Regions from separate parts of the Homo sapiens genome. Here region 1 is linked to region 2. The links come from fine-mapping of genetic effects on gene expression. Tissue or cell type: skeletal muscle. Region 2 holds a variant in brackets; the other region holds the start of a gene. All regions are shown on one strand. Distances are between the middles of the regions.

The links. PIP is the estimated chance that this variant, and not a neighbour inherited with it, causes the effect.
Region 1: TFCP2L1 starts here. The variant in region 2 is fine-mapped to the expression of TFCP2L1 in skeletal muscle (GTEx, PIP 0.98).

The regions. Positions count from the first base shown.
Region 1 is chr2:121,283,959-121,286,458 of GRCh38, forward strand. It overlaps TFCP2L1 (transcription factor CP2 like 1), which reads right to left and starts at 1,244. Exons shown (of 15, transcript NM_014553.3): 1 at 1,090-1,244. The coding sequence starts at 1,151. RefSeq lists a silencer at 1,270-1,409.
Region 2 is chr2:121,184,596-121,187,438 of GRCh38, forward strand. No RefSeq gene overlaps it. Among named protein-coding and RNA genes, the nearest start is that of TFCP2L1, 99 kb to the right of the region's middle. The variant C/T (reference allele first, on the strand shown) is at 1,186.

The sequences.
Region 1 (2,500 bases), 99 kb after region 2:
CCATGAATAAAAACAGCAGATACATCCACTAAACCCAATCATTCCCCCGCCTCCAGGAAAAGGGGATGTCTTCAGGGAGGACAAATACCTACCAGCAGCCAGGAATTACAAATAACGTTTTAAGATCTAAGTGGGAACTTCTTGGGGCCAAAACTAGCACTTAAAGGTAGCTCTAGTATGGGGGCTGTCAATGCCTGTGACTCCTTCGGCCTCATCATTCATTTTCCTTGAGCCCATATCAAATGCCCTTTGGGTTAAATTAGGCACATTTCATAAACTGTGACTAAGATGGAAATAAGGACAGGCTAAAGCTGGTTCAGGCGAGTTCACAAAGTGAAATGACTGCCCATTAGTCCCGGCCAGCAGCAGAACAGGGAAAAACAATCCTCCGGGAGCGAGAGCACACGGGGTCCTACTGCTAAGAGGGGCCTGTGGGGAACTGTGCAAAACACGCAGGACTTACTTTCCCCTCTGAAGGGCACTACTCAAATCCCTCCAGCAGAAGAAAGATTTCCATCAAGGGCAATAACCACGCGGGCCTCGGGCGAACACGCGCAAGACCATCGCGGGAAGTGGGGCGGCCTGCCCCTCCGAGCCCGCCGCCCGCCCCTCGTCCAAGGAAGGGCACTGCAGAGGGCGCGAGGCTGGGAGAGGGGCCCCGGCGGAGACGGGCAAAGAGCAGGGGACGAACTTCCCCGGGCCGGGCACCAGGCTGCTGGCAGGAAGTTTCCTCTGCTTCTCCGATACGCGGGGGAGAGGAGGGCCGCAGGGGGCGGACGGGCCAGGGGAGGCGGCGGGCCGGCAGGTGCGCGCCCTGCACCCTCTCTGCCGCCTGGGAGGAGCCCTCGCAGACATAGGGCTCTGCGCGCTCGCCTCCCCAGCGGGCCCCCAACTCCGCACGTCGGGTCCCGCCGGCGTCCATCTGTCAGTCCCTAGGCGGGACGCTGGGCGGGTCTCTCAGTCCCCAGAGGGCGGACAGCGGGGAGGCCAGGGCCCAGCAGGGGCGCCCCCTCTCCGCCCCTGGACGTCCAACGGCGCCCGGCCCGCCGGCCCGGCCCGAGACCCGCGGGGACCGCGCGCGGCCCTTACCGCAGGTAGCTGCCGGAGTTGTGCTGGTTGTAGTGCTCGGGCTGCGTGTGCCAGAAGAGCATGGCTGGAACTCCCAGCGCGCCGACCGGGGCGCGGCAGCAAGCGCAGACGCGGGGCGCGCCGAGGACCCAGCGGCGGCTTCGCGCTCCGAACCCGCGGTGCCGGCCGGCTCGGCGCATTTATCGGCGGCCCAGGGGCGGGACAGCGGTGAGACCCGCCCCCCAGGAAGCGCGGCCCGGAGGGCGGCTCCCCGCGGCAGCCGCACCTGGCTGACTCCCGCGCGTGCCTTTCCGGCGAGCGAGCGCGCCTCCGGGGCGGCCAGACCAGAGGGCTCTAGGGCCGGCCGGGTGCTCTCCCCAAACTCCGATGTGGGGCTCAGGTGACCCTTGCCGCCCCCAACCCGCTCCACACGGCCCCTCTGGCCTCTGCTCCCCACTCTACGCCCAGGGCCGGTCTCCAGAGCGGCTCCGAGATTTCCAGCCTAGGCCCTCTCTGTCGCCTTTCCTCGCTCTTGTTTTTTCATAGCACTTCAGACGCTCTGAAATCATGGGGGTTTTTTTGTTGGTTTTTTTTTTTTTGAGACGGGGTCTCGCTCTGCCACCCAGGCTGGAGTGCAGTGGCGCGATCTCGGGGCTCACTGCAACCTCTCCTCCCAGGTTCAAGCAATTCTCCTACCTCAGCCTCCTGAGTAGCTGGGATTACAAGCGCCCCCCATCACGCCTGACTGATTTTTTTATTGTTAGTAGAGACGGGGTTTCGCCATGTTGGCCAGGCTGGTCTCGAACTCCTGACCTCAGGTGATCCGCCCACCTTGGCCTCCCAAAGTGCTGGCATTACAGGCGTGAGCCCCCGAGTCAGGCCGACATTTTTTTATTTTTTATTTTTACTTGTGTACTGATTGTCTTTCCCATTAGACTGTAAGCTCCAAGAGGACAGGGCCTGGCTCGCTTAACACCCCGTTACCTGCACTGCCTAGAACAGTGCATGGGACATAGTTAAGATAAATGTTTGTTGAGTAAACATAAAAAAAGAAAAAAGGAATGCACCAAAAGAGTAATCAGAGAAGCCTTCCTGGAGGAGGTGACATTGAGCTGAGACCTGATGGATGCAAAGGAAGCATCTCTGTGAACATCACCTAGGGAAAAATAGTTCCAGGCATAGTTCCCTACCCCCTTGGCAACAGTGACTGCCAAAGCCTTGAGGAAGACCTACTTGGCATGGCTGGTCTTGAGGAGAGCTTAGGAGATGAGGTGAGGAGGGCGGGGAAGATCAGAGGGCCTGGCAGGCCAGGACAAGGAGCTAGGATTTTATTCTGTGTTTTAAGCAGAGGAGTCACATGTATGATTTGCCTTTTGGAAAGATCAGTCTGGCAGCAGTGTAGACAGTGGGTCATGGGGTGGAGGGGAGGGCC
Region 2 (2,843 bases):
GGGCAGCCACCAAGGGAGGCCCAGGGGCAAAAGCTTGGCCATGGTCCCACCTGGAGGCCTGTGGGGAAGGCCCACCAGAAGCTCATGCTCCCGCCGTAGAGGGACACCAGGGCCACTGCTGCCACCTGTGGACACTGCTGCCACCTGTGGACACTGCCACAGGAAATGGCATCTCATTTTCCCTCCACTTAATGTCACCCACCTAAGTCTGAGTCCTGGATGGAAGTGTCCTTTTAGCCACATCTGGGTCCATTTGCCCAGGAACAAGGTGAGAGAATGCCTGCCCCTTCAGCTTCCACAGTGGGTGGCTTATCTCCTGCCAATACTCACATCATAGGGCCTTATTCTCAAATAAGAAGGGGGCAAACATACTGGGTAGCCCCCTCTCCATCCAATAGCAAATGTCCCCTGCCATGATTAAGAGCTAAAAAGAATGGAATAGGTGACATGGGATCTAGAAGCTTGGAGGAGGGGCCACAAGGAGGACTTGAAGAATTTAAGAGAGGTCCATGGAAGAGGTGGGTGTGCTGACTTTGGCCTTTAAGCACAGAGAGGATGTGGCCCCGGCTCTGTCCACGATGCTTGGCCTGACCTGGTCAGGCACTGTGCAAGGGGTCCTCTGAGCTCATTCAGTGCCTGGACCATGGCAGCCACATTATAATTCTCACGGCCATGGCACCGTGCTAAGACCCAGGCATGCAGCTGCAACTTTCCCAACAGTCCTGCAGGCTAACTTCTCTGACCCATAGCTGAGAGAGGTGATAGGCCTTGATGGAAAAGGCCAGCGCGTGAGCCCAGGCCTGTCCGACTGGGAAGCCCACGCTCCTTGCCCTAAGCTGGATGCCTCCCGTTGCAATTAGATAAGGAGCCGTAACACTGTGTGTTTTACTCCTGCTGGCTGCTTTTCCCAGGAATCTTTGTAACCTTCAGGCCAACCCTATGAGATAGCGAGAGCTGCAGATGTTCACCCCTCTTGAGTAGTCGAGGAACCCAAGGCCAAGGTCACCCAGCTTTCAGGGACTGGAGTCCACATAGGCCTGGTGCCTGCTCTTCGCCCGGATCCAGCCAGGCAGCTGTCTTCAACTCATGACCCTGCAGCGGGAGGTTGTGGGGTGGAGCAATTTGAGGAACAGATCCCATTAAGCTGTGTCCATCCACATGATGTAAACCCACACCTAGCCATCC[C/T]TTGGAACACAGTGGCCAAAAGTGCAGAGGGAACATTTGTCTAGGAGAACAATGGGTATTGATTCCTCTGGCAGCTGCAGCTGGCAGGCTCTGTAGGTGGTTTGGTCTGGGGTTTGGGGTGGTGTTTATTTGGATGCCGTAGCCTGGTTACTCATCATTCTTGCTCTCCCTGGGCCCCTGGGCTGTCTGAGGACTCAGTGGGAACAGTTCAACAGCCCAGGGCATGTGCTGTGTCACTGTCCCCTGCTCTTCCTGAGAGTGACTGGCACTATGTCCTGGCTTGGGCTGGGCTATCCTGGGATGGGGGCCTGGACACTCTGGGCTTGGACTGGCAGCCCTGCAGCCAACCTTCTTTATATGGGGCACACATGCTCCTGAGAACTTGCTAGACAGGACCGTGTCCGTGCTCCATTTCCTGGCCACCTGCACATCAGTCCAAATACTGTTTCTCCAACACACACACACACACATAGGCAGACAGGCCGCTGCCTACCTCTCACCACCACAGTCACTTCAGTGGCCTGGGAGGAAGGTGACCTCGAGCAGGTCCTGGTTCAGACACCAGTGCATGGCCTGTCAGAGCCTCTCAGGCCTCAGTGCCCCCAGCTGCAAGATGCGGCTCCACAGCAAGCCCTCTGTGCCTCACCTGCATCCTGCTCCAGGCGCCTCTGTCTGCAGACAGCTCTGTGCGCGTGCCCGTGGAGCACGCCCTGCCTGGGCACCACACATCACCACCAGAGAGGCAGGAGGCAGGAGCACCGGGACAAAGTCTCCTCCCACCTCCCCCAGGATGAGTTTGTGCAGCTTCTGGGAACTGGGGCCCAGGGCTCTCCACCAGTGCTATCTGCCATCAGTCCTCCTTTCTCCAGCTTCACTCTCCTGTCCATCGCTCCATCCCCCGGGGTCACACGCCCTTAAGTTTCCATACAGAAGCCAAAAGCCTCAGGCTCCCTGAATTTTGGGTGAGCCCAGGTAAAGACAATGGATGTGAGAACTTCTCAGGCCTCTATTCTGTGACATATGAAGGTATGAAGGGCATTTATTTATTTATTTATTTATTTATTTATTTATTTATTTAGAGATAGAGTCTCTGTCACCCAGCCTGGTGTGCAGTGGCGTGATCTCAGCTCACTGCAACCTCTGCCTCCTGGGTTCAAGCAATTCTCCTGCCTCAGCCTCCCAAGTAGCTAGGACTATGGGTGTGTGCCACCACACCAGACTAATTTTTGTATTTTTAGTAGAGAAGGGTTTTCACCATGTTGGCCAGGCTGGTCTCAAGCTCCTGGTCTCAAGTGATCTGTCTGCCTCGGCCTCCCAAGGTGCTGGAACTACAGGGGTGAGCCACTGTGCCTGGCAATACGAAGGACATTCTTAAAAAAAAAAAAATTGAAGTCCTGGGCCATTTTCATCTCACACCCAGCTGGCATCTCTGCCTCCTTTACTCCTTGGATAACTAACCCTTAATTCCGTCCTCTGTAAAATGAGGCTGACCCCTTGAGGAACTTCTCCAAGGATTGAATGGAGTAAGTCCATAATGTGCTCTGCACAAGGCCTGGTACCCAGAAGGTGCTCAATAATTTTAACAACCAGCACAGAGGCCTGAATGGGGTGCGGGGGGCAGTGGCTGGAATCAGAACACCTGGCAGTTTGCAGCTGTC